Regions from separate parts of the Homo sapiens genome. Here region 1 is linked to region 2. The links come from fine-mapping of genetic effects on gene expression. A gene starts in region 2. The other region holds a variant in brackets. All regions are shown on one strand. Distances are from middle to middle. Region 1 overlaps RASA2 (RAS p21 protein activator 2). Region 2 holds the start of RASA2 (RAS p21 protein activator 2).

Region 1 (5,378 bases), 62 kb before region 2:
AGAAATTTTGAAACTAGCCAAAGAAAACACAAGCCAAGATAATTCTGGGTTTTAATGTTGGGTTGAGGTACAGTCAGATTTTCCCACTGTACATACTGCTTAAAACTTACCCTTCTCAGGCTAAACCTCAAAATGATATCTGACACGGCATTTGCAGTTTACTATGCACTTTCACAAAATGCACCTAATTCTCACAACTGCCTTTGAGAAGAGAATTATGCCATTTAAAAGAAGTAAGGCTCACAGGTTATGTGAGGAAGTTACAAGGTAAGGCTCAAAGAGGTAGCGTAACTTGTAAGAAGCTGGCCAAGACTCAACTTCTACTTTTTAATTTTGTTACTGAAGTCCAGTGCCCTTCTACATTCCCACTGTGCCCCCAAATACAATATTACTGTCCTTGTAATACCACATTTATCTCACATAAACACCAATTATGAGAAACCTTAATGACAGAAATCCAATTTTCTATTTTATGAGGTATAAAAAAAAGCAGAGGAAAATGCAGTACTGACTTATAAAAAACTTATGAAACGATAAGAATACCCACAAACCAAAACACGGATGCCCATAAACCAGAAGTGCACCCTACAGAAATCATCAGTACTCTTAATTTTTAAATATAAAACAGTTAAAAATTGAGTTTTCTGCAAAACTTAAGTAATATTATTAAATATAGGTTATTCATTACATATATTTGGAAATATTATTTTTCTAATTACCTAGCATAGCACTGTTCTTCCAATCTGTAAGTAAGCAATTTCATATCATAAATCATGGATGGGCAGAAAACAAATGTTGAAAATAACCTCAATAAGGAATTTGATATTTTATTTATATGTGACATATAAAGCATTTACAATATAGTATCTAAAATTTACAAAGGTAAGAAAATATTATAAACAGTTCAGAATAAGACTGATCTGATTCTTTTCTTTGGATTTTTTTTTAAACTAAAAGAAAATTTTAACTTCTACATCCAGGTAAGATGGAGTAACAGGAACTAGATTTACTCTCCACCCAAAACGAATTGAACAAAATCAGCAGTGAAGGACAGGTGAGCCCTCCAACTGCCCCAGCTTACAGCTAAATGGTTTCTCTGAGAAGAAGAGGCAAAGCTGTCAGCAGGAGGAGGTCAAAGTGACTAGGGACCCCAGGGCAGAGTACTAAAGGGAAGAAAGTTGCACAGAGAAAGAAAAACCTCCAGGGAGCTACAAGAATCCCCACTGAGTATTCAGCTGAGTATTGATACGTGTATATATGAGGAAATCATCTGAGGCTGGGGAAAGAACCATTTGAAAAGAATAGAGGCAATAGTTCCTAAAACCCACACATGGCTAGCAAGAGGTACCATCAGCCACAGTAGAAAACCTGGTAATTCATGGGTACTGCCTTAATAGTAGGAAAACATAAGCCCTCCAGTAAAGACTGTGCTTGTCTGTTTAACAAAAGTTAAAAGTAAACCACAAAAGGATCAAACTGTTTCTAAGTAACTTAACCAAGTGCCGAACAAAGCTCAAGTACATTCATAGAAATATTAAAATATCCAGCAACTTCACAATGTCTGGCATGCAACAGAAAATAACCAGGAATGCAAGGAACTAAGAAATTATGATCCATAATGAAAAGAAAAATCAATAGAAACAGAATCAGAAATGACAAAGAAGACAGAACTAGCAGACAAAGACATTTAAAAGTTATAATTATATTCCATATGATCCATCCAGACACAGAAGACAATAAAAATGGAAAAATCTAGAGATGAAAAACATACTGAGCGGAATTAAACATTTGCTAAGACTTTGGGGGAGGAGTTGGATAGACATGAGAATCAGTACTTCAGTTTTTGAGACAGAGTCTCACTCTGTCGCCCAGGCTGGAGTGCAGTGGCGCAATCTCGGCTCCCCGCAAGCTCCGCCTCCCGGTTTTACGCCATTCTCCTGCCTCAGCCTCCCTGTACTTCAGTTTTAAATGTGTTAAGTTTGCAATGTGATTCATCAAAGTAGACATATTAATCTGAAACTCAGAAAACAGACCTGGGTTGAATGCACAAGGTACAGGCAATTTTAAAAACCTTATTTTGAAATAATTTCAGATATTCAAAAAAGCTGTTAAAATAATAGTTTCTGTATACTCATCAACAAATGTTAACGTTTTGTAGAACCACAGCAGAATTACTGAAATCTGTAGCCCTTACTCAAATTTCACCAATGTCCTTTTTTGATCTAGGACACAATACAGGATCCCATAGTGCATTTAGTTGTCATGTCTTCTTATTCCTCTCCATCCTGAGACAGTTCATTAGTTTTCCTTCTTTGCCCCGTGATCTTGCCAGTATTGGCCAGTTATTTTGTAGTGTATTCCTTAATCTGAGTTTGTCTGATGTTTACTCATGATTAGGTTGAGGTTATGTATCTTGGTGTCCTTCTCAATGCATCCTATTGGGAAGTACTGGATGTCTCATTATTGGTGATGTTAACTTTGATCACTCAATTAAGGTGGCATCTATCAGACATCTTGTCACCACACTTATGCTCACTTAGCATCCATAGATGATTTTTTGAATTGTCCCCTCACCCACTTATTATTGTGATGTTTGCCAATGTTGATTTTCATTTCCATCATTCCTCCTACATTCATTAACTAGAATTCTACTATAGGAAAAATCAGTCCTTTCTCCCTACCAAGTATTTGAGTTTTTAATTGTTTATTTGTACCAGTATTCGCTTATATTTATTTTATTCTAT[A/G]AGTTTTAATCCACTATTATTATTTATTCTGAAGCTCAAATTGTTCCAGATTTGGTAATTTGAAGTCCCTTTACATTGGCTTCAATGTCCTTTTTACATATCCCCATTATTTTTTAGCACTTTCTTACTTTTTGAGACCCCAAGATGCTCCAGACTCATCTCATATTTTCCCTGCCCAAGTCCTGAAATAAGCTACTGCTAAAAAGGAGTCCAGGTTCTTTTACTGAAGCTGCACTAATGCTGTAGTCATTAGCCATGTGTGGTTTTTTACATTTAATTAAAATTAAATAAAATTAAACTTCAGCTCTTTGGTCACATTAGCTGTATTTCAAGTTTTCAATATCCACACATGGCTAGTGGCTACTGTTTTGGACAGTGAAGATACAAAGCATTTTCCACATCACAGAAAAATCTACTGGAGAGTGCTGACTGGAGAATTGCAAACACACACACACACACACACACACACACACGCACACACACACTCATACACACTCCTACCACTATTTTTCCCTAGAGAAGTCTGCCTTCAAAGGAGAGCAGAGGAATGGGAATGATAAAAAGGACTGGGGTATGGGTGGGCAGAGATGAGGTCTGGGGAGGCATGCCTTTTAGGACAGAGATACTAGACCATGTTTATTTGTGGTGAGAACCATGTAGGAGAGAAGGTAAAGCTGACAAAACAAGAAAAAGAAGGCATAACTGAAGGAGCAAAACTCATTAAGTAGAGGAAATAAATGGAATCCAGAGCTCAGATGGAAGAATTCAATGTCAAGAAAAGGAGTACCTCCTCTGCTCTAAGGACAAAATTATGGATGCAAATTAGGTTTATAGATTTGGATTCAGGAAGATGTAAGCAATTTCCAGGCTGTGGTGGTAGAGAATCTTATAGCTGTATTAGAGAAGCACAGTTAAATTCCAGGGCAGATATAAGTGCCCATGTGAGGCCTGTGATGATAAATTTAAAGTGAAATCAGCCTACATGATTTTCTCCAGCTATATTCATGTGCAGATTGAACACAGAGGAAGAGGTCATTTTCAATTAGAGTTTTTCCAGATAAATAAGAATGATGAGAACAATAGGGGAGTTTACGGAACCTGCGAGAAAATGACTACAGCAATAGGTCACGGAAAAAGATGTAGAAAGAAGTGAAAACAGGAACACAGTGAAGATCAATGGATGGCAGGGAGGTCTCACTAAAGTTCAAAAAATGTTGTAGTGGGGACTTTCTAGGTCTGGAGGATAATAGTAACTACTAGGATATGAATCTTCCCATACATTACTCCCCCAAAACCAAAGTCCAGCAAGAAGCACAAAGAAAGCCATATGTGAAACCATGCCTTTAGCAATACTAAAAAACAGAGAATGTCATGAATTTCAGAATATCTATAAGGATGAGAAATCAACAATAAATTCCATAAAGCTACCACTGGAACTCTGCTGCTACAAGACAGTGAGTATGGAGAGCAAAAGCTTAAGAAACTTTGAAAAAAAGAATAAATGGAAAAACCTAGAAGAAATGGATAAATTCCTGGACATATACAACCTACCAAGATTGAACCATGAAAAAATCCAAAACCTGAAGAGACCAATAACAAGTAATGAAATTGAAGCCACAGTAAAAAGTCTTGCAGCAAAGAAAAGCCTGGGACCTGATGGCTTCACTGCTGAATTCTACCAAATATTTCAAGAAGAACTAATACCAATCCTACTCAGCTAGTCCAAAAAATAGAGAGGGGAACACTTCCAAATTCATCCTATGAGGCCAGTGTTACCCTGATACCAAACCAGAGAGAGATACATCAAAAAAAGAAAACTATAGGCCAATATCCCTGATGAACCTTGATGCAAAAATCTTCAACAAAATATGAGCAAACCCAATTCGACAACACGTTAAAAAGATCATTCATCATGACCAAGTGGGATTTGTCTCAGGGATGCAAGGATGGTTCAATATGTGCAAATTAATCAGTGTGACACATCATATCAACAGAATGAAGGGCAAGAACCATATGATCATTTCAACTGATGCCAAAAAGTATTTGACAAAATTCAACAGTCCTTCATAATAATAAAACCCTCAAAAAATAGGTACAGAAGGATCAAACCTCAACACAATAAAAGCCATATAGTACATATCCATAGCTAGTATCATACTGAATGGGGAACAACTGAAAGTCTTTTCTCTAAGATCTGGAACATGACAAGGATGCCCACTTTCACCACTGTTATTCAAGTCCTAGCTAGAGCAATCAGACAAGAGATAGAAATAAAGGCATCCAAACTGGAAAGAAAGAAGTAAAATCATCCTTGTTCACAGATGATATGATCTTATTTGGAAAAAACCTAAAGACTCCACCAAAAAACTATTAGAACTGATAAACAAATTTAGTAAAGTGGCAGGATTCAAAATTAACACAACAAAAATCAGTGGGGTTTCTGTATGCCAACAGTGAACAATTTGAAAAATAAATCAAGAAAGTAATACTGCTTACACAATAGCTACAAATAAAACAAAATAGCTAGGAATTAACCACAGAAGTGAAAGACATCTATAATGAAAACTGTAAAACACTGATGCAGGAAATTGAAGAGGACACTCAAAAATGGAAAGATATTCCAAGTTCATGGAC
Region 2 (5,378 bases):
TCGAGTACACCCCTAATTTCCTTTATCAAGGGTTCATATGACAACCTTAGGATATCAAACAACCAAACTCACCTCTTGAAAAAGTTTAAGGAAGCAGACAATTCAGAACTGTCATGGTTTCCTAGCGCAAACTGCAGCAAATCCAGGGTTGCTGACAATATTTTGTCTTATAGATGGATCTCGAATTCCCTGGGTTCGTTTGAGCGCATATAAAACACCTGAAACATATTTGCATGTCCCTTCTTCCCTCCTCCCCAGCCCCCCGGCAAAAAAAAAAAAAAAAGTACACTCAAGCAAAAAAGGGGTATTGGGGCTTCATCCTTTATATATATTGAGGTCTCATGTTGTTATTTTGTGACCTCCACCTTTTTGGTTACCACTTTTTGTTAAGTTTCCTCTTGTCCAATAGACAAATATCTGTCCAACTGACAGATATTTCACCTTGTGAAGTATAAGGGGAAATAATTACAGGAATGAAATCCCTAAAGAAGGTTATGGACTATTATCTCTTGAACATTCAAGATACATAAACCAATCCATCCTCACTTTTCACTGGGGTGATGTGCAGTTTAAAAGTCCTATGCAAGTCCAGAAATAAGAAAATTTCTTCAGGCTAATTTTCAGCCCCTACAGATCTCTAACTCTCCAGAAAAGAGGCTCTCAATCAGTAGTATAAAATCTGCCAGCACATCTCCTAGTGGGCACTATCAGGCTTTCTTCCAAGGTTTCCTACTGTGGTGAAGAGAAAAGCTGACACGGTTACACCCTCCCCAAGCTGCTTAATATCTTGTCAGAACCACCACCATCTCATTTCTGTGACCTTGACACCTGCTAATGACTCTTCCAACCCCTCAGTCCCCACCCTACAAAACCCACATGTTAGTTTCAGGGAAACAGAAAACAGCATCTCTTCACAAGGTTCTGAATGTCAACCAACTGTGGATTACATCATTTAAAAGGAGGACAAAGAAATGGGAAGAGAGCTTCTGTATATAAGTATACAAATACATTTTTTTTTTCTAGAAAGCAGACACTCCATAACCTGAGCTATAAGATAAGCAATTTAAAAAGCAAGAAACTGACTAGGATAACAGATAGAATACTTCAACTGTGGTTAAAGCAGTAATATCATTCCCAGCAGCTGGATGATCAATTTCCAAGCCAGGGTTGCTTTAAACCATAGAAACAAAGTGGTTTTTTGTTTTTCTTTTTTTTAACGTGTAGACCCAAGTTTCACTTACAAAACTGTTCTTAGTGGTCTTTGGCATGGGGCAGACAAAAGCACAGGACAACTAAGTCCTTCTGGAAACCCTAACCCTCAATTCCAAGACATGTGTATATGTAGTTCCATGGTAAAACCTGCAGTTACGTACCAGTGAGTCTCCAATAGACAATGCCTAGCATCAAGTGGCACTAAGAAAGTGGTAAAAATCTGGAAAATCATATAAAGGGAGAAACTTTGGCCCATTTACAGTTTTCCCAAATGTTAAATTAGATATATGCAAAAGTTGAAAACAAAATTTTCCCCTCAAATATAAGGTTACAGAAAAAAGAAAAAATAAATAAAATTTAATCTGAATTCTGAAAAGGTTTTATGCCCTAGAAAGTAACTTTAATTTTGGGAACTAAGATCTACCTCTCTGGTGTCACTTTCCAGGTTTTAAGAACTGTAATCTCTTAAGAGCCCCAGGACTACCTCAGGGAATAAAAAGATAAGAAAAGTTAACATGTCTGCTTCTGAGGTTTCATAAAATCCCAAATACGTGAACCACCTGAAAAGAGGAAAAGTGGGAGAATGTGAGCTCAACAGTACTGGTATTAGAGGAGAGGAAAATTTTACATCCTGCCCAGGAAAGAATTGTTAGCCACTTTAATGCAAGTCAATTTTCTTCAAAGTGAAAAGTACGCCCTCATAATTGAGGGTTATTTATAAGAAACATGAAGCATGTTTCCAATCTGAGAATACTGCATGAAGAAAATAATGCTAATTTTCGACAAATGCAAAAATAAATGTTATTGATCTCTCTTACAAACAGAAAACAAAAAGCACTTCATCTAAATAAACCACTGTGAAAAAAAAAATGGCAACCTGACACCAAAGGGTCGTTTTTAAAACTAAAATGTTCAAATGACAGAACTCAAATAATCTGTCCACAGTAATGCTCGGACAACTCTGAGCAAAATTTCGTATTTAGTCAACTGGTAGGCTCGCTCACTAAAGTAGCAATTACACGCATGAGAAGGAAGGGAATTAAGCGGGCTGAGTGCGGGCTGGGTGATTGTGTTTTGAGACCTGCTCACAGGAAGCCACTACATCCTGCCTTTAGTCCCGCCTGTCACGCCGTCCCTCGATTCAAGTCCCGGCCGCAGCGAGGTGGGGCAAGTACAGGTGTCCCGCCGAGCTCCTCCCGGGGCGCTCACCCGCGAACAGACCGCGCGGTAGCCACTCGGGCCCCAGGGCGGCCCGTTTCCTGCAGCTCAGGGCGCCTTTTTCAACCTCTCCCAGGCTCGCCGAGCCCAGGAAACGAACAGCCCCCTCCCCTCGGGCCAGCCCCACTTCCCAGCCCGCCACCTCCTCGGGCCGCGCCTCCGTATAATTACTGCTCGGCTCCCACCGCGGGGCCACTCCCCAGCGCCCGCAGCCGCGCGAAGGCCTGAGTCTGAGGGCGGCCGGAAGCTCCTCACGCCCCCGGACCGCGCCCCCGGCCGCGCCCCGGACTCCAGCGTCCCCGCGTCCAGGCCGCTCCCCACGACCGAGCCCCTCACGCCGGCGCAGCCCGGGCTCTCCCACCCCAGGCCCATCTCCAGCTCCCACTCCCTCCGGAGAGCAGCAGCCCCGGCCCACGCCGCCCCGTCGAGGCGACGCCGCCCCCCAACACACCCCCTTCCAGCCTCAACCGCGCCCGGCCCAGGCCCCCTCCCGGGCCCGCGATCCCAGCGCAGCTCGGCGCCGCCACCGCCGCGAACCCGCCGCCCCCTCAGCCTCGCGCCCAGCGCCGCCAGGGCGTCCCCTCAGCCCAGCCCCCGCTTACAGATCTTGCCCCGCAGGCTCTGCAACACTCGAACCTCGCGACTGTCCTGGTCCCCGGCCTCGGGCTCTGCAGTCGCACTCGCCGCTGGCGCCTCGGAAGAAGCCGCCGCAGCAGCAGGCGCCGCCGCCGCCATGGTGCCGCCCGGCCCGTGCCGCAGCCCTGCCGCCTGCGTAGCCGGGCGAGGCGGAGCCCAGCAGCGGCCTAGGCCCAGGCCAGCCGCGCGCCTGGCCCCGCCCCCGGGCCTCGGCCCGACTCGCCCCGCCCCGCCCCGCCCGCCGCGGCCCCGCCCCCGCCCCCCCCGGGTCTCCATTCACCGCCTTCGCCACCCCCGAGCCGGGCTACCCTGCAGAGAACCGTACTCCCGGCTTGGGGCGCTGGCTAAGGGTAGCTCCCAGTCGTGGCTCTGAGCGGCCTTAAAATCCCCACCAGGAGAACGCCCCGGCCCTCCCGTGATCCCTAAATCCTCCCGGGAATTGGGCTCCCCCAATGAATAGACCTGCACATCTCCTAACGCTCGCGGGAAATACAGGCCCTTCCCAATCAGGGAAACTCCCTGTGGGAAGAAAATAGAATGGAATTTGGCAGGTGGGTGGACCTCAAAAGTATCTTATTCAAAAGGAGGCAAGAGATGCATTTGAGGCTCTTCCAGTATTATCCAAATACTCCCCGCCAGCAAGCCAAACTCCTCCCACACAAATACTCTTTACTAGGACCAATTCTCTGCAAAACCTGGTTCAAGAAAAGGACCAGCCACCCCCAACTCCAGCGTGAGTGCAGTGCCTGAGACCCTCTCATAGAGAAATTCTGAAGCATTTACCATCACTTTTGTATTTCAGGAACAGAAAAAGCAAAGAAGGGCTCCCCCCCGCCACCGCCACCACTACTAAAAGTTGGCTTTGTTAAAAAGTTGACTGACCCTAGGAAATGTGTAAATCTTTGACTAATTGTTAGCTTTATTTCAAGGGAACTCTTTACAGTGAGTAAACTGCATGAATAATACCCTGGTATGTGATGAGGAAGACAATTTCCTGGTGTTGAGGTTGTTAACTACGCTGCCCTAAGAAGGAAGAAACTGTGACTTAATCGGGCAGGGTAATTCTTTTCCAGGGCAACAACAGGAATAAGCCAGTCAGTCAACAAATATTTTTTGAGGGTCAGACATAGTGATGGCCTCAGACCTCAGAGACTACACAAAGGTCAAGATGAAGAGAGCTCCAGCTCATTCTGGAGGGAGACACAGAAAAGGCCAGAGGCACTGGGAGATAAGAAATAGGACGGGGAAACCTGAAAACTGAAGACAAACGCGCCGCCTGTGCAAAGGCTGGACAGCCCCAGAGAATGGTCAGAGTTTAACATGGACCTGGCCAGCGAAGCTTCCAGTTCTGCCTGTGTTGCAGGTGACTTCTATTTCCCCATGTGATCTTTACACTTGTTGGATAAAGTGAACCACTTCCTCTTATATGAATGTTTTGCTGTCATTTCAAACATAAGTCCAAAACTTAATTTCCTGTCTCCCTTTCCAAATCTGAGTTCACATCTTATACTGTTACTCAGGCCAGAAACTTTGACTTTTTCTTATCCCTTGTCCCAATGCTGTTTTCAGTTGCCACATCCTTCTGACTCTGCTGAAATCTCTTCCTTCCTTTCCATTCTCTGTCATTGCCCTTGTTAAAATTATTCTCATTTAAAGAGTATCAACGTGTTACAGGGTTTTTTCCCCCTTATTTTTAAAGGCATCCCTTTTTAGAATCAGACATAGAGCCTGTTTCTACCCCTTTTACATTTGGGCAAGTTACTCAACCTTCCTAAACCTGTTTCTGTTTCTTCTCTTTCTTTCTTTCTTTTTTTTTTTGACAGTCTTGCTCTGTTGCCTAGGCTGGAGTGCAGTGGCACGATCTCAGCTCACTGCAGCTTCAACTTCCTGGGCTCAAGCTATCCTCCCATGTCAGCCTCCTAAGTAGCTGGGACTACAGGTGCGCGCCACCATGTCCAGTTAATTTTTGTATTTTTGGTAGAGATGGGGTTTTGCCATGTTGCCCAGGCTGGTCTTGAACTTCTGGGCTCAAGTGATCCATCCGCGTCAGCCTCCCAAAGTGCTGGGTGTAAGCCACTGCGCCCGGTTGAACCTGTTTCTTTAACAGTAAAGTGGAAATGCTAAACTTTCTTCTTTGAAGGGTTGTTATTAAGATTAAATAAGTATTGGGAGCAGGGTGTTAAGTGTCTAGTGGAATGCTGAGCACGTAGTAGGATTACCTCAGTAACTGACCTCATGCTTTTGACTGGAACTCTGGTAATAAGTCCCCCATCCCTCTCATTCCTCCTACATACCACTTAAATTAACTTTCC

What was found. PIP is the estimated chance that this variant, and not a neighbour inherited with it, causes the effect. A credible set is the group of variants that fine-mapping cannot tell apart.
Region 1: its variant is the best candidate, but not a certain one, in a credible set for the expression of RASA2 in whole blood (INTERVAL, PIP 0.72).

Annotation. Positions count from the first base shown.
Region 1 is chr3:141,547,324-141,552,701 of GRCh38, reverse strand. The region is part of intron 5 of RASA2 (RAS p21 protein activator 2); the gene reads right to left. Among named protein-coding and RNA genes, the nearest start is that of RASA2-IT1, 25 kb to the right of the region's middle. The variant A/G (reference allele first, on the strand shown) is at 2,745.
Region 2 is chr3:141,484,871-141,490,248 of GRCh38, reverse strand. RASA2 (RAS p21 protein activator 2) reads right to left here and starts at 3,222. Exons shown (of 24, transcript NM_006506.5): 1 at 3,033-3,222. The coding sequence starts at 3,165. RefSeq lists a silencer at 2,434-3,313.